2 separate regions of the Homo sapiens genome follow, and region 2 is linked to region 1. The links come from fine-mapping of genetic effects on gene expression. A gene starts in region 1. The other region holds a variant in brackets. All regions are shown on one strand. Distances are from middle to middle.

Region 1 (9,347 bases):
GGAATCCCAGTGCTAGAGGCAGCTCATATGATGTCTGGGCCAGTCTCCTCAGATTCATAAAGGCCAGCGGCACAGGAATTTGTGTATGTGGGCAGGGTAAGAGTTTACTGGCATGGCACTAACAATTAGAATGGACACAAAAGCAGGGCCCTGGCGTCTCCTGCTGTGCCAACCATTCAACACTGGTTAGATTATGTGGAGGGACTGGACTGAAAGTGGGATGTACTTGAGGGGGGTTCAGAGGAGTGCTAAACTAGTAGGGAAGTGCTTTTGAAAAAGCTAAGTAAAGCTGTTTTAACACTTAAAAGGACCCAAAAGCAGAAATCCAGAAAGCTCTTAAGAATGACTAGCAACTAAAACCAGGAAGCCACTGATCCATAAAATTCTCTCCTATCACCTCTGCCTTTCTCGGTAAGCACACTCACTGCCCTTAAGCATGTCAGCTCTGCTGCTTCCAGGTATATATACAACAGCTGCAGTCACAAAAAGAGATGGGCTTTCTTTTCCTGAGCTAAATTCCAAATTTTCAGAGACTGGCCCAGTTTGGGTCCTATCTCCATATATGGCCAAAATGATAGGTACAACTGTATAATTTGGCAGCAGAAACCCAACCTGTGGAGGTGGGTTCATAAATAGAATAACCAATCTAAATTTAACCCATTTCACAGATGAAGCTAGAAAGGCAAACAAATGCGAAGAACCTTATATGCCATGATACCTTCATGTGGGTGGGAGATAAGGAAATGTAGTTTTATAAGAAGTAGATGGTTTAGCCGGGTGTGGTGGCTCATGCCTGTAATCCCAGCACTTTGGGAGGCTGAGGCGGGCAGATCACCTGAAGTCAGGAGTTCAAGACCAGCCTAACCAACATGGAGAAACCCCGTCTCTACTAAAAATACAAAATTAGCCAGGGTGGTGGCTCATGCCTGTAATCCCAGCTACTCGGGAGGCTGAGGCAGTAGAATCACTTAAACCTCAGAGGCGGAAGTTGCGGTGAGCCAAGATCGTGCCATTGCACTCCAGCCTGGGCAACAAGAGCAAAACTCTGTCTCAAAAAAAAAAAGAAGAAGAAATAGATGGTTGTTTCACTAAATGATGAATATGCAAAACACATTTGAAGAGACAGGGAAGAATATGGTTTTGGACATATAAGTTTAATTACCTGCTAGACTATCAGATGGAAATATGTGGTAAATGGATGGAAACAAGGTACATAAACTTAGGAGGCAGAAATTTTTAAACTTTAGGGTTAGACATTCACCAGATTGGACAATTTTTAACATTTAAAATAAAACTTTTTGTCATAAAAAACAAATGTATTAAAACTAGTTTCCAGAACTGCCCAAATGACTTTTTAAACATGACTTAAATGTCGTTTTGACAAATCTATCCAAAATACTAATTTTCCTTTTAGAACTTAGTTTATAATTTATATATTAAAGTGCCCTTAATTGATATTCATTGGGATACCTTCCTCTGAGCCCTAATGGTTTTGGGAGGCCTAGGCGGTGGATCACCTGAGGTCAGGAGTTCGAGACCAGCCTGGCCAACGTGGTGAAACCCAGTCTCTACTAAAAATGCAAAAATTAGCCGGGCATGGTGGCGGGCGCCTGTAATCTCAGCTACTCGGGAGGCTGAGGCAGGAGAATTGCTGGAACCCGAGAGGCAGAGGTTGCAGTGAGTCAAGATCGCACCATCACACTCCAGCCAGGATGACAAGAGCGAAACTCAGTCTCAAAAAAAAAAAAAAAGTGCCTAAGTATCTTTTAATTAAGTTGTCATTCTCAAAGATATTCTGGAGCAAAAATCAGGAATTAAACATCTATAAATTCTTCTTCACTTCTGTTATAGTGTAGTAATTTATCATCTAACCCATAGTGGTCTATCAATTGAGTAAGGCTTAGTTTCTTGTTCTCTTCAGACACAGCTGACTGCAACTCATAAAGCAAGAGCTGGCTACAGCTTCTCCACTTCTTTATTAACAACTGTAACTGAGACAGATCATTCTGAAACAGAAAAAAAAACATGTATGTCAATAACTAGTCATGCTAGTTCAACTTAATTAAAGTTGTTAAATTAGTGGATGTGCAGGTTTAAAGGCTAACATACACAGGGATGAATGGGACTTCTATCTAGGAAAAAGTAGGATGGTCATATGTAGAATGGTTACAATGTCACTCAACTTGAGTTCTATGGCTATTTTGTTGGCTTAAGCTCTGGGCCATCTTTATGATAAGGGAAAAATCAAATCATTAAATAGGGCCAAAACTATGTCAAGAAGCAATAATACAGGGAAAAATCTACTGTATTACAACTGTACTTTTTAAAAAATGACACTATGCTTTCCACTAAATGTTGCTATGAACCTAAAACTGCTCTTTAAAATTACAATATTCAAGTTAAAAATATTTTTTTAGGCTGGGGATGGTGGCTCACACCTGGGATCCCAGCACCTTAGGAGGCCAAGGTGGGAGGACTGCTTGAGCCCAGGAGTTCAAGACTACACTGTGCAAAATAGCAAGACTCTATGTCTACAAAAAAATAATTTTAAAAAATTAGCCAGGTGTGATGGCACATGTCTGTAGTCCCAGCTACTAGGGAGGCTGAGTTGGGAGGATCACTTGAGCCCAGGAGTTCAAGGCTGCAATAAGCTATGACTGCACCACTGCCCTCCAGGCTGGGCAACAGAGACCATGTCTCTAAAAAAAGAATGAATAAATAAATAAAATATATTTTTTCAACATTCAATACTCCTAAATTTTATTTTTTAAAAACTCCAGAATTTCAAGAGAACAAATGAGATACACTATCCCATCACTTATTCCACGTAATTCAGGGAAAATGAGCTATTGCATATATATGAATTTTCCAGGTAATAAAGATTATTCTCCTTCCAAGTACCCAAGTTCTATTTAATTCAACCTATATGGGTTGAAATCTAAAATATAATATATATATATATATATTTTCTCAAATAAAATGGCTGAATCACATTAATTATTTGGGGGAGACACAAGATCATTACTAAAAATACCTTTTATTGTACTCTACAGCCCATTTTTAGTTTTACTAATTCACTGTCAGCTTTCACTTCTGTTCCCATTGTACTTGCATCTAACATTTAATACTTCTAATATTGCTGTGGGCTAGAAACTAGAGAGAAAAGTTTAACTGCATATTAAATCAGAGCTGAGATTCTTAAAAAGTTTTACCTGGTGTTTAAGGGCCTTTTCTACTCTAAATCTGGAGTTGAATTAAAGCTGTTGGAAGCCAGGTTTCTGAATATTTGGCTTATTGCTTATTATGGTAAAAAAAAAAATTCTATTTTTGAAATTACTTTCCTGTAATTTATGTAAAAATAAAAATTATGCAATGGTCCTGAAATTCTTCTCACCTTTGATCTATACATTTTGACTAGTTTTAGCCTCCGAAGAAGGTCTTCTTTCTCCTGAACCTGCTTCACCAATTTGGCTTTTTCAGCGTTTAATCTTTGTTTAGGAAGCTTCTCACTCACAAACTCATTTTGGAGAGCACTGCATGATCCAGAATCAAGTGACTGAGATTCACAGACATTGAGATTCTTCAAAGTATTTTTCAAATTTGTATTTTCTTCAAATTCACTGTCTATATGTTTAAAACTTTCTTGAAATTCCAAACAGTTTTCCTCTGTGGAAGATGCTGGTTTCTCTGAAAAGGTCTGATCATTTTCTTCACTCTCTACTTTAAGACGTTTCACCACATTGTAAGAGGAATTAAATGAAAATCTTGTTTTCCTTAATCTTTCTCTAAGTGTTGCACTCATAGGCTATAAAGAGCACAAAACATTAAAAATGTGAATCAAGAAAAACATTCTTAATGTCAATAAATCACCAGAAATAAAGTCCTTCCATTTCTATGCTAGACACCACTAGATGGCTTTCTGTCTCCACATCTAAAGAAGGCATCACAAAATGACTTTAATTTCTGGAAGCTCCATTTGTTTTATTTCCTTTTTACTTCAGCAAGATCAACACCTTTCCAAAAGTGTTGAGAAGTTTATCCCAGTAATCAAGGAACATTTGTTCAGTAACAAGCACATGCCTGATAGTACTCCAGGTGCTTCAGAATTACAGAGTAAGGAAAAGACCTAGACTCTGCCACTAAAGACCTTCATAATAATATTGCACAGATGCAAACTTTCTCCATCTGGAGTATTGTAATAACCTAATCTGAAACTAACTGAAATGAATTCATTCAAGAGGAAAATATGGAAGGGGGCTGGTGGGTGTCATATATGTCACCTTAGAAGAAAAACAAAATTATTTAATAAAATGTCTACTTATTTATGCTACACATTATGTTAATTAACAACCTTCCGTAGAATTTAAACCACCACTGCCACAATACTTAGAAACACATAATGGATCCACTGGAAGAACAAAGATTTTCATACTTGTTTTCGGGAACTATTTGTATAGGGAGATGATGGATTCGCAGAGGCCTGAGGAGTGCTAGGTAAAACCACAGCTGAGTCTGACGGACTTTCCATCTTGAAAGTGAAATCTTGGTTTTTCTCTAAAAAAGAAAAATTATAAAATAATCGAATTAACCACACCTCTCTATAGTCGACTTTTATCAAATAATATATTGTATTGGTGTACAAAGCATCCACAAGTAAGCCAGATATTTCTTCTAATTTCACTTTGTAATTCATTCTTGCTCTTTTTGCAGTTTTCCATTTACCTTCCCACATAGGGACCACTAAGTTTTTCATGATACATCAACCAGCTAGTATCTCATAGTCACAAGACTCTCCTTGTTTTCGTTTCATCCACCAAAATATATTCAAATTCTGCCTTGGAAGTAGGGAAGAATAACAGCTTTAGATAATCAGGAATTCTTTATTATGACAGCTTCATAATTCAAGAAGCTATAGCCGAAACCTTGACTCAAAAACAATAGGACCTGAATGTCACCCATCCTGAACTCTACAAGCTGTGACTAGAACCCGTTACCCTGCCGGCCCGAGGCATAAGAAACACAGCGGAGACGCATTTAAGCCCGTCTGTAGCCTTTTAGTTTAAGCGGCCAACAGGGACTGAAAAGGAGAGTGGACTGAAATTGCTTCCTCCGACAAAGGCATTAACTTTTGAGGGGTAAACTAGGGGCGGGAGTCGTCCCCTCCTTCCCCCCGTTGCAGAAAGCCCACTAGTTCCCCGGAGACCCCAGGCATAAGGTGAGGTTGAGTTCCCCAGACCCGGAAAGGGAGCTCAACTCGACTCCACAGCCGACTCCCGGGGAAGCCCAGGTGTCAGGGATCCCCCCTTCCCCTCAGCAGGGTACCTCCCTCCGCCATTCCCAGCGAGAGCAAAAAAGCGCGCGCACCTGCGGCCGTAAATCGATCCTGTGGCAGGGGCGGGGCCGTGCGGTAGGCGGAAAAGATGCGCAATTGGCCAGATTGCCTGACGCGCGAGGCGCCGCTTCACTCAGCGACTCAGAGCGGTGGGACTGCGCGCGCGCCTCCGCCAGCGGGTGGTTGGGGCGGGGCTTGGCCCACACGATGGGAGGCCCAGACGCATGATTGGCAGAATTAACCGGTGCGCGCGGCTCTCCCCGCCCAGCGCCCGAGAGCAGCGTGAGTGCGCGCGCGCGCGGCCGCGATCCGCAGCAGGTCTTCGGGGCGGGCGAGGCTGAGCTTCGGAATGTTAAACCAATCCTGAGGGGGGCGCGCTTCCGTTCGCGGCTTCTGTTGCCTTATTTTCAACCGCCTTCCCTTCAGGCTTCCTTGTTTTTGTGCGTCTGTGAAGTGCGCCTGAAAGTGCCTCTCCCCACCCCCGCCAGCCCGCCGCCTCCATTCTCTGGCTCCAGTCAGTCTCCTCTCCCTGCTAGTCACAGTGAAGGCTTTACTCAGACGTGGGGCGGCCAGAAGCCGCACGGCTGGCTGCATGTTAGATTTACAGCTTGTGGACTCCCCAGAGGCAGAGACCACAAAAGAACAGCGTTGGTTGGGTTCCAGCCTATTCCAGCGTGGTGGTTCCAGAGACCACAAAAGAACAGCGTTGGGTTCCAGCGTTGGGGTCCACATTTCAAACATGTTAGAAATCTATCCGAGAGTCCCGGCACTTTAGCTGAGCTCATCGCTAGCTTTTTTGGCTGCCGCAAACTCGGCGGTCCCGTCGCGAGGTTTTTTGTTGTTGTTGTAAACAAAAAACCGTTTCTGTACCTCAGTATGCAGGCTCCTTAGCGTGACCTCAAATCTTTTACTCAAATCTGAGGGAAAATGTAGCCCAAGGAAATTTGTTGTGGCGCAACACAGGAAGCAGAACAATCACTACATGAGATTGTGTCGGTCCAAAATTCACGTTTGAGACCGACAGGGCCCTTGCTGGCTACCGGGCAGCAGCATCCTCAGTCGAGAAAATCCCCCCCCCGCGCCCCGCTTCCAGTATGGCGAGGTTCTGTTGCTACGCGACGACAAAGTTAGCTACATTGGGTGGAGCACTGGGTTTAGTGAAAGAGTTGAGTAACTTCTGAGTCACGTGGAAGTTGGGAATTTCCAGGGGCCAGTGTTTTCAGTCCTCTTATTGAATGGCCATTTTAAACATTGATATCGTCTCTTTACTATTAATAACATCTGACAGTAGTGGCTTAGAAGTGGCCAAAAGGGAGTTACCTGAGTCTTAAGCAGTCAGGTATAATAATTACAGAACCTGAGGACTACCTAAGGGAATGATTAGGGGCGTACACGTTACAGTCAAATTGTCTAGGTTCAAATCCTGGCACCATACTTTATGTGCTTCTTAATGAGGTGATTCTGTGCCTCAGTTTCTTCACCTCTTAATATGGGATTGGAGAATTAAATGAGAACTGGTGAGAGGCAGCTGGAACAGAGCTAGGTATCTAGGAAGCACTCAGTAGTTATTTTATATATGCAAGTGTATTCACCATTCCCTAATGGATTTAAGGGAATGTATCACCTTCAGTTTCACCCCTTGATTTATCTCCCACCCCCCAAAAAAGCACATATATTTTAAAAAGATGCTGTGATCTGTAAGATCCCACACAATATAAACCATAAATAGCAGAAAATGTAGAGCCTCACATATGATTAATAATACATATTTCACTCCTAAAATTTTTTAAAATTACATAAGTTAACCCCAAGGAATTTACAAAGGGGAAGAGAGAACTCATGATTTTGTGATAAAGGTGTTACTCACCTCACCAAGCTGCAGGTCTCAGTCTGTACATTTATTTCTCCCTTTACTCATCCATTGGCATCAGTTAATCTCAAAGAAAAAGCAGAATGATTTGTCCTGACACTAGAAGCACAGTGCAGACTCTGCATATTCTTTATACCTCCCGGCATAAGGGCGAGTTGTTTTTATGAGTCTCTAAAATCAGCAGCTCCCAAATCCTTTTACCGTTACAACCTAAGCTTAGAGCTGTGTTTTTCCTGGCTGCAGAAAGGAAAACAACATTTTGCCTTGCAAATGTTCTGACTTGCTTATTATGTGAACTGGTATCTTAAAATGGGATTGTTTGGCCAGATTTTCAAAGAACTTCAGAACATATACTCAGAAAAACCCGTATTTCAGAAATGTGCATTTGTTGATCTACATCTCTGGCTTTCATGCATTATTAGAACTGAATTATCTCCCTGTACAGAAGTTTGTATTTTACTTAACCTTTTCACATAACAAACTGGAAATCCAGTTTCCTCTCGGCTTCATGTCAGAGATCTGGAATATAGCCCCCATACTTTTAATTGTACCTTTAGATAAAGCATAGCGTACATTTCAATGTCTTAAGTGACTTCAAATCTATTAGCCTGTGAAGACTTTGGTGTTTCTGACACAGGACATTGTATGTTTCGTATGAAACTTTTCAGGCAGGAAAAAATACTGGCCCAGTGAGCCAGGAAGCAAAGACTCCTTACCCTGCCATAGAGAACAATTTAAGCAGTAGACTCCAATAATAATAGTAATTAATATCAACTTAAGTCAGGCTTTCCTTGTGTTTTAAAATTTCTTCAATACCCAAGGCTACTGTTGGCTACTTTGTTACTCATCAGGGAGTGGTAAAATGCTTCGTTCTTGTCTGTAATTATTGTTGGTGGGATGATGATATAGACCTAAAATCTTTATGAGGTTTTACAAAAAAATTTTTTTTATTCTTATTCTTGTCTAATGGCAAGAAAAGAATAGTAAATAGTCTCTCAGTCTCTCTCTCTACCTATACAAAAAAGCACAAACACACGTACTTTTTAGCCATAATTAAAATGTTCATTTTAATTTTTAAATTCTCAGCTTTAGTATTATTTTTTAATCTTAACAATAGTCTCAAGCTAACTTAAATTATATTACCATAGACTTTTCTGTATTGACAAAAATTTTTGTGTCATGTAGACATAACTAGTATCCATAGGTTTTTTTTTAAAAGAAACGAATACATAGGCCGGGTGCAGTGGCTCACGCCTGTAATCCCAGCACTTTGGGAGGCCGAGGCGGGCTGATCACAAGGTCAGGAGTTCAAGACCAGCCTGGCCAATATGGTGAAATCCTGTCTCTACTAAAAATACAAAAATTAGCTGGGCGTGGTGGTGGGCGTCTGTAGTCTCAGCTACTTGGGAGACTCAGGCAGGAGAATCGCTTGAACCTGGGAGGCGGAGATTCGGAGATTGCAGTGAGCCGAGATCACACCGTTGCGCTCCAGCCTGGGCGACAGAGACTCCTTCTAAAAAAAAAAAAAAAAAGAAACAAAGATAAAAATATACGCTTCTGAAACTAGGATTAAAATCCACTTGGGTGAGGAATTGTGTAAAATCCACATGATTCTGTTGATTTATGATGTCCATTAGGACAAATTAAACAAACTAAATTTAATACAAATTTATAACACAAGAAAATCTGCCAAATTCTCTTAACTGACTTTCAACACTTCTTATGACATTTGTACATAAGTTGAAAATGCCCTTCAAAAACTCTTCTATGAGTTTCTCTTGCCATGAATTCAAGTCGCATCTTATAGACCCATCCATGGTAAAGTGATGTTTTAGTGCTGTGTAATTTCATAAATTTCTCTTTGAGAATAATTGACAAATATTTCTATTTTTTTCTCTATTACCTTAACGATCTCACATGGAATTCCATAATGTGTAATGGCTGCACTTGTAGAGACTTTGTTACCAAACATTGACCTTTATGATTTAACTATTTCATATTCTTTAGCCAAGATATGCAAGAGAGGGTTTTATTATCAACTTCAAGAGAAAAGGGCCCTTGACATAGCTGTTAGGCATGCCGGAGCGATTGCCTCACTGAGTAGGATGGTTACTTAGAACACGGAGATACGGAGAGGATCAGTAT
Region 2 (9,347 bases), 22 kb before region 1:
TTTTCAAGAAATAAAAAGGATGAAGCCTTGATAAACTACACCATGAATATACAGGCATTAAAACCAGACTCTGCAATGCTACAGAGACTGCTGATAACTACAAATAAATTATGAGGAAAAGAAATGAAAGGGAACGTGAAGAGTATAAGAGATTTATTTTATTTTTAACCTTTAAGTTCAGAGGTACATGTATAGGTTTGTTACGTAGGTAAACTCATGTCACAGGAGTTTGTTGTACAGATTATTTCATCATCCAGGTAGTAAAAAGAGATTTAAAAGACATGAAAAAAAATTATGAATAAGTTATACTGAAGTGGCTAGGTTTCTGTCTTAGTCTGTTTTGTGTTGCTATAAATAATACCTGAGGCTGCATAATTTATAAAGAAAAGAGGTTTATCTGACTCATAATTCTGCTGTCTAGAAGGTTCAAGATTGGGCATCTGATGTGGGCCTCAGGCCGCTTCCATTTATGCCAGGTGAAGGGGAGCTGGGGTGTGCAGAAATCACATGGTCAGAGAGGAGGCAAGAGAGGGTGCAGGGGAGTGCCATCCTCTCTTTAACAATCAGCACTCAGGGGAACTAATAGAGTATAAACTCACTCACCCCTGAGGGAGGGAATTGATCTATTCATGAGGGACCCATACCCATGACCCAAACACCTCCCATGAGGCCCCACCTACAGCACCAGGGATCACGTTTCAACATGCAGTTTGGATGGGGCAAATATCCAAACTACAGCATTATACACCCCTGGGTAATAAAACTACAAAGAAACACAATATATAATAAAAAGTCAAGATAGTGTTTAGTACTGGGGTTGAGATTTTGATGAGGACTCCTGGAAGAAGCAACTGCAGTCGTAAAGTTCTGTTTCTTGCGATAAGTGGTGCTAACAAGAGTGTTTGCCTTTATAATAACCCATTAAATTATATATTCATGTTATGTATTTTTTGTATATGTGATTTACCTTACAATGAAATTATGAAAAAGGTAAAATAACTGAAGTTATTTCAATAAGCTGTATTCCCTTTTTCTTTAAAATGTTTCTCTTACATTTTAAAGTTTATGTGTATGTCATAAACTTGCTTGATTAGTGCCAAGTCTATAGAAAATATTGTCTCAGGTGGAAGTAATTCCACCAACCTTTTTCTTAAATATTTCTACAGGAGGAACTGAAAATAAGTAACCTTGCATTTTCTTTATTGTTGGATGAAGAATTAAGCTCTAGAGAAAAATTCCTGAACAACTACCTTACAAGGAAACAGCACGAGAAAGTAAGAATAGTGTCTGAAATCTGAATACAAGCATTTTCTGATAGACATGCCCCTCATTTAGCAAGAGCTCACGTGTCTAGACCCTTCCTTCCTTCCTTGCACCATTCCTACATAACCATGTGCATCCCTTGGCTCCCTGTCTGGAACTTTGCTCCAGGGCCAGGTGAAAGTAACCATTCCAATCTGTTAATAAAGTTAGGTGATTCTGCATCTGCAATCATTTAGCCAAAAGAACTGTGTAGCTTTCATATGACATGGTTTATAAAATGAGGCCATATAGCTTCATGGTTGAAAGCACTGGCTGTGGGACCTAGGACAAGGCATATAACCTTTTAAGCTATTTGCAAGCTCTTACCTAGGGAATGTTTTTCTCTCTGGACACGCTAAGATTTACTAAGATGTAAGCAATGGGCTTGCGTATAGAATGAAAAACTGCCGTATTATGAAAAACTCTAAATATGAGCTTGGATAGATATGGTTCATTAAAAAGACAATGAATACAAAATGTTTATCACATAATGTTTCTACAAATGTCAGCTTTTGTTAGTAGTATTAGTAAAGAGCATTTATGAATGTGTGACTTAAAAATGACATGAACTTTTTTCTAAGAGCCTATTAAACAGCATATGCAAAGCTTCTTCTAAATACAACTTTACATATAGCAACCCTGCAGCATACTAGATTTCTTTCACAGATGAGGATACCATCTCAGAGAGTCTGGGTAGCATGCCTAAGTCAGCCACTAGTGTGTAATAGAGCAGCAGCTGGAACTGTGGGAATAAGTGAAGAACATCCAAATGCAAATGAGCAGATGCTGTTTATTCAGAGCTTGGCACAGCAAGGGACTCATCCACCATCAGTTACTTTTGGCAGACTCAAAGGCAGGAAAGGAGTAGGAAAGCTTTATAGTGCAAAGAAGAGAGGGCTTCAGATGCAACATCATTGGAAGTTGTTGGCATGAGGAAGCTAGAGGCAAACCAATTAGAAGCGGGACAACTCATTTTACTGGTTTAGGGAACATATTTGGCTTTCTCTGGATGGTCCTAGGTTGGAAATGGGGACAAAATTATAGAAGCTGGTGGTAATGATCAAGCCCTGAAAGTTTGAGGCCAATCCTTAAAAAGGCTGTGGTTTAGTTTCCCAGCTGATGATTGTAGAGGTTGTGGGTCAGAATTCTGTTGTTACATATGGTCTGGCCCTTGTTTGCATGTATATCCAGTCTCTCAGAACCCAGGTCCATGTGATTCCGAAGCCTGTGCACTTTCATCCTCCACACTGACTTACCAAGAATGCAGTGTGCTCCATAGACACTCACACACTCATACACAGAGTTGGCTGTACTTAGAAACAGGTGATTGGGTGTTCTTTCAAAGTCCCCAATTGGTGTATTTTCTTCTATAAATCTTATCTTCATGAATAAATACTTCACAGACATATTTCTCTTGTACTAGGAAATTCCTTGCTCTTTTTAGTATCCCCAATATTTTTGTTTATGCTGGAAAGTCTCCAGTTTCAATCAACTATTCCTGATGCTGTTATAGAGCCAGACTTCAGAAGCTGTTCGGAAATCTAGAGAAGACCTGGATGTGTGCAAGGAGCACTATGACAACTTACTGGCAGAAGACAAAGTGAGAGTTGTTGTCTTACCCACTCAACAATGCAGTAGAGTTGTTGCTGCCTGGATTGGAGGAAGGTTAAAGGGGATATAATATAATTTTCTCACAGATTTTTCTCCCACTTAATTCTCAGCTATGGGTGAACTTCATTCTATGCCATTGTATATTTTTGAAAATCCATGTGTAAAATGAATTTTTATAAGCTTCTCTGGTTTAAGCTTTCTGTTATACAAAATACAGGGAAATCATCTAGCCTTTAAGGCTTTTCAAACTTTAGGTTGCAGACCCCATTACTTGGCCATGAAATCAATTTAGTAGGTTATGACCAGCAGTTTTATAATGGAAAAGAATAGGATAGAATAGCATAAAGAAGACAGATGGAACAGAATGGAATAGAAAAGAAAAGAATAGAGTAACATTCATGTTTTTTGGGTAAATATATTTTGGGACACTTCTTTGGGAAACTTCTGGATGATTTCTAAGACCTGTTATATGAAATAATATTTTTAATACACTTAGATGCTTCTTATCAAAACAAATCTTTGAGACATCATTGCACAGAGAATGGTTAATGTCTAACAACTTTGTAAATCAAGGTTTCATGCATTTTTAAAACCAAAGTGCTACCACCTGTATTTTGAAGAGTATTGTCAACAAATAAAAGGTTTCCAAACCAAGTTGCAGTCCTCAAATGTCATGTTTGTCCTTAGGTTATGGATCGCAGCTTTAAAAAGGAATTTTCTGAAATTCCTGGTCATCAAGTGGATATACTCTACAAACTTTTTAAACGCCGACCAAGGTTTGTTTCTCCTTCACTATTGTGTTTCTGAGAAAAAAGTTTGCAAATAAAGAGGAGTGTTACTAGATTTCAGCTTTTTTCTCCCAATTAAATGGAATTATTCAGTGTAATATCTTTTAGGTGGAGATGTTTAAGGGTTTTGATCCTAATTCAGTATTTTTTGAGATTATGTCTATATCTTAAGGTAGAGAATAATGATTTATTTTCATTATTTAAAAATAGTTAAGGATCTGTGTAAGCACGGTACTATTGTAGATTCTGCTTTGTACATTAAGGAAGTTCCTCTTACATCATAGATGGCACACAGATTTAAAAACAGTTTTTTCTAAAGTGCGTTCAAACAAACACAAGTTCCCTGATGTATAAATCGGAACTACTTGTAATAGGCTTCCAGGACTAACTAAGTTTGGGGAAAATACTGGGTTAAAAAAAGGAAGTTAAGCAGCTTTTCTTTTACTGCAGAATGTATTATTGGCCTTTGGATCTCCAAGTGTAAGAAACAGAGTAAGCAGCGTTTTCCAAACTTATTTGACCACAAATTGCTTTTCCTCAGAGTATCTCATGTGCTTGTGCCTAAAGTTTGAAAGATGCCAGTATAAATGG[T/C]AGAAAATAACCATTTGAAAAGAGTTCTAAGAAAGTATCACTGATTTCCACCATTATAAATGCAGATTTCCAGTTTTCAATCAAATGTAATCTAGAAATCAAGGAGTTTGTCACAAAGATGTAGTCAGCTAGTTTGTGTTTGAGATACAAACTCTGACAGGTTATAGGCAACCTAGGGAATTTAACCTAGAACATGCCTCTTGTTTTGGTTTTCCTTTTTTTTTGAGACGGAGTCTCTGTCTGTCACCCAGGCTGGAGTGCAGTGGCACGATCTCTGCTCACTGCAACCTCCGCCTCCCGGGTTCAAGCGTTTCTCCTGCCTCAGCCTGCCAAGTAGCTGGGACTACAGGCACATGCCACCACGCCCAGCTAATTTTTGTATTTTTAGTAGAGACGGAGTTTCACCATGTTGAGCAGGATGATCTCGATCTCCTGACCTCGTGATCCACCCATCTCAACCTCCCAAAGTGTTGGGATTATAGGTGTGAGCCATCTCGCCCGGCGGTTTTCCTATTTTTAAAAGAGTGAGTGATAATTAGCCCAATTACATACCTTCTCCTTGTGGAAAAAGAAGTGAGACCTCCCGCAGCAGTGGGAAAAGCACAAGCTTTCTTGTCAAACAGAATCAACTTTAAATCCTAACTTCAACACCTGTCAGACTGATAGCCTTGGGCCATGAGCTTCTCTCCCAGGCTGACTTTCCTCATCTAGAGAATGGGGATGATAATATAGTTTCAACCTCACAGTGTACTGTAAAGCATCTTGATAGTGAGTGCCTCGCCCAAATCTTTGTACCCTTCTTCCCTTTCCAGCTGAAGCACAGGGAAATGAAACTAATCTATTAATGTAGATAAAAACAGAATTGGCCAGGTGGTGGCTCACCACTGTACTCCCAACACTTTGGGAGGCTGAGGTGAAACGATGGGTTGATTTATTTGCCTGCTTACAGTATACAGAAAGGAAATGTGTCCTAGCACAGACACAATTGTCTGTCAGTGCTGACAATAGTTGGAGACATCTGTAGTCTAGCCAAGGTCACGTCTGAGAACCTGGAGAGTATGGAAGAAGGGCAAAGTGGATCCCTTTATCTGTGGAATAACCCACCTACCAGCCATCACATGGCAAAGGGAAGAGCCATACAATGTGTTATGCCTGTGCTAAGGGCCTAATTGTTTCACATTGATGTTTTTATGAGAATGTGAAATGTTGATGGGCTTTTCTTGGTAATACCAGGATTTCCAAACAGAAAACGCACTCAGAAACAACCAGCGTTGTCCCTTTCGGAGAACTACCAGGATCTGGCAAGTTGAATAAGGATGCCTTTGCCCAGTTAATGAAAGCTATGGATGAGTTGGACAATATTAGTAACATGCCAGAAGGCTTGGACCCTTTGGTCTGGAATCATTTCTGCATGACAAGACGAGCAAAAGTGGAAAATGAACAGAAAGTATATACTATTTTAACTTAATTTAATTTTTAGTGTACTAATATCAAATACATAGTTTACATTGGTCAGTGTAACCAAAAAAGCTAATTATTTAGGTTTCCCTGCTAGGGTAGTATTTGGTCATAGTAATAAGATAATGAAATACTATATTAACCCTGGTGCTATTGAAGGCTAAGTGTAGGCCTGTTGCTTTTAGACTGGTGCCGTTCAAAATAGTGTCCATTAGCCACAAGTGGTTATTATGCATTTGAAATAAATATTGCCAGTCCTAACTGAGATGTGCTGTAAGTGGAAAACATACACATTAGAAGGCTTAGTATGAACAAAAAGAAATATGTCTCATTAATATTTTTATATTGATTATAGGTTGAAGTGATAATATTCTGGATACATTTAATTAAAATATATTAGTAAAATTAAGTTCATTTCTTTGATTTCACTTTTTATAATGCGGCTACTACAGAATTTAAAATTACATATGTGACTCACATTTATGGCTCACGTTATATTTTTCTTGGACAGCACTGTTGTAGGTTATCTCATTTTGCATAGATTAGAATTATATTTGGCTCAGCAGAACCAACTTTATAGTTTTGCTAGAATGTGGCAACGAGTAAAAATTTAAGAGGGTCTTTATTTGGGAAGAGAATCCTTCCTCTTGTTGCTTCTTGACCACTACCCCAAATTCCCTAAATTTAATGCCCACATGCATCAGGCTGGCATATTTTTGTTAAAGTACCTAGGATTCTATAATTTCACTTAAAGTGATGAGAACAAATTTTAAAAATAAGATATAAAAGAATTTATAGTTGCCTGCATACTTGATTTTCACCAAGAAGCAAATTTGATACTTTCAAATCGTTCAAATTGTTACATACCATGTAAGTTTTAGACATTTAAATTTAAATGTTTTATTACTTTCTTCGAAAGATAGACCTGTTAAGGTTTTTAAATTTAAAAAGTTAAAAGATGTATGTTGTCTAAAATTGAAGCTCCATATGTTCTGACATGTTTCTGGCTTGGTTTCTTTAGGTAAAGCAGAAAGCAGCTGACTTATTGGAAATGGCAACTTTCCTCCAGAAGAGAGTTGAGGAGGAAGAGAAGGTGCAACAGGAGATTGAGAGAGTGTTCCATGAACTCATCCTGTAATTTGAAGCTTTCTTTCATGTTCACCTATTCAAAGTCTAATTAGGGCTAAATCAGGTTGTGTTATCACTGGGGAGAATGCCTACTGACTGCTTTACAGCCATCTCCCTTCCAGCACTGTGCTTTAAAATTTCTATTTTAAAAAGCCTGCTTTGTTACATAGACCTTGATTCAGGATGGAACTTTCCCACGTTTTGTTGCTCTTATTACAAATAAGCAAGTTTCAGAAAAATCTTAGTATTGTTTTAAGTCGGCCCCTTCCACATAAAAATACAAAGAACCTGTTTTTCAGTACTTTGGGGCTCAAGGCATATAAGCTAACCATGTGGAAAATTAAGCAGATGTCTAAGAACTTTCCATGTAGACACGCAGCCAACTGATATATTTTTCTTTAGGGGAACTTGTTGTTTACTAAGTGATTAAGATATTTAAGTCCTTGCTTCATTTTTTGGCTATATTTATAGCCTCATCGATAAATACTTCTCTGATGTTCCCAAATTCATTGAGAACACATCATTTTTAGATCTAGGCTATAGCGAGGATATGAATTACCCAGAAATAGATTTGTTAAGTAACTTACATATTAAATATTGTTAGTATAGTATCAGAAATCAATAAATAAGTTCAGAATTTTAATAGAGTTATTTTATTTATTTATTTATTTATTTTGAAATGGAGCCTCACTCTGTCACACAAGCTGGAGTGCAGTGGCACGATCTGGGCTCACTGCAGTCTCCACCTCCCAGGTTCAAGAGATCTCATGCCTCAGCCTCCCAAGCAGCTGGGATTACAGGTGCCTGTCACCACCCCTGGCTAATTTTTGTATTGTTAGTAGAGATGGGGTTTCGCCATGTTGGCCAGGCTAGTCTCGAACTCCTGACCTCAGATGATCCACCCACCTCGGCATCCCAAAATGCTGGGATTACAGGCATGAGCCACTGCGCCTGGCCAGATTTGTTATTTAAAAGTGTCTCTATTTTCTTCATTTTTACTTTACTTTTATTACCGTCAAAATTATACAATCTTTTCTTAATCCTAAAGTAAAAATCTATAAATGTATTTCTGTCCATACCATTTTTTGAGCAACCCAGGTATAATTCTGCATCAATAGGAAGAGGTTTCAGAGAGACCTCTAGGAAAGCTCATCATCAGGAAAATATTCTCCACACTAATCTCCAGCATGTTTTCCTTAAGCTGATTCGATTTTTATATTCTCAGATAATAGGTGAAATTTGAAATATATTACAACTACTTGCTTTGAAGTACTTTTCAATTCAGATTACAGGAAGAGAAAGTGAGATTCCAGTTGAATTTGACAATCCAAATTCTTCTTAAACAAGGACAAGTAGAACTGGAAAATTTCCAGCTAGTACTGGAGTATTCTGATGCAATTCTCATCAACAAGAACATAATTGAAGACTTGAATTCTGTGATTCGGGTAATTATACTTTTTATTTTTATTTTAATTCAAGGTCTTGCTTTGTTACTCAGGCTAGAGTCTTGTGGCACAATCATGGCTCACTGCAGCCTTAACCCTTAGCTAGGCTCAATAGATCCTCCCACCTTCACCTCCCAAGTAGCTGGGAGTACAGGTTCACACCACCACACCCAGCTAATTGTTTTAAAATTAGTTTTTTGTAAAAACAGAGTCTTAATATGTTGCCCAGGCTGTTCTCAAACTCCTGAGCTCAAGTGATCCTCCTGCTCTGGCCTCCCAGAGTGCTGGAATTAACAGGCAGGAGCCACTGCACCTGGCCAATTATACTTGTTTAAAGACAAAACATATTGCCTGCTGTACCAAATATTTTACATTATTCTCCCATTTTCATAAGTAATTTTAATTCAATTAAGTCAGTGGTTTCCTAACTGTGGTTGCACATTAGAATCATTTGAAGAACTTTATAAATGTGCTCAGACCCCACCCCCAGGATGAGTATTTTTTAAAAGCTCCCTCCATAATTCTAAGGTTCAAGAAGGATCACAGAGCTAAATGTCCATTCTAGTATGCCATCGTTTTTTTAGGCCCAGCCTACTCAGGCAAAGATAATCTTAGATAAGCTTAGTTAGTTGATTTCAGACCTTACTTCTTTTCTAATATGAACATTTAATGTTATTTCTGTATAAGCTTTAGGTATAATTGAGTCCTAAAAAAATATTCCCTATAAGCTTTATTTTATCTGTATTCTACAAATTTTAATATTTTGTGTTTTAATTTTCTTTTACATATTTTCTAATTTCTGTTGTGACTTCCTATTTGATTCATGGGTTATTTAAAAGCGTGTTATTTAATTTCTAAATATTTGCGGATTTTGTGCTATTTGGGAATTAGATGATAATGCTACTGTACATTTTATTTTTACAAATGCTATAAACACAAAACATATTGCTATTATTTTTTGCTTTAGACAATTATCTTTTAGAATAATAAAAATGTGAAAAGAGGTATTTTCTATTTACCTTAA

Which allele goes with the higher level. Positions count from the first base shown, and alleles are read on the strand shown. Sizes are in standard deviations (SD) of each study's normalised expression.
As copies of C replace T in region 2, the expression in monocytes after R848 of the gene that starts at base 5,348 in region 1 goes up (large effect, 1.1 SD a copy in Quach 2016).

The links. PIP is the estimated chance that this variant, and not a neighbour inherited with it, causes the effect. A credible set is the group of variants that fine-mapping cannot tell apart.
Region 2: its variant is the best candidate, but not a certain one, in a credible set for the expression of SFR1 in monocytes after R848 (Quach 2016, PIP 0.80).

Annotation. Positions count from the first base shown.
Region 1 is chr10:104,118,172-104,127,518 of GRCh38, reverse strand. SFR1 (SWI5 dependent homologous recombination repair protein 1) reads right to left here and starts at 5,348. Exons shown (of 4, transcript NM_001002759.2): 1 at 5,323-5,348; 2 at 4,433-4,554; 3 at 3,395-3,805; 4 at 1,136-2,006. The coding sequence starts at 5,335. The coding sequence ends at 1,815. RefSeq lists a silencer at 5,353-5,582 and enhancers at 5,823-5,872, 5,267-5,930, 6,503-6,602, 6,086-7,285.
Region 2 is chr10:104,139,818-104,149,164 of GRCh38, reverse strand. CFAP43 (cilia and flagella associated protein 43) reads left to right here. Exons shown (of 38, transcript NM_025145.7): 29 at 1,167-1,274; 30 at 2,816-2,902; 31 at 3,601-3,689; 32 at 5,526-5,739; 33 at 6,772-6,884; 34 at 8,164-8,323. Among named protein-coding and RNA genes, the nearest start is that of SFR1, 22 kb to the right of the region's middle. RefSeq lists an enhancer at 1,843-2,374. The variant T/C (reference allele first, on the strand shown) is at 4,293.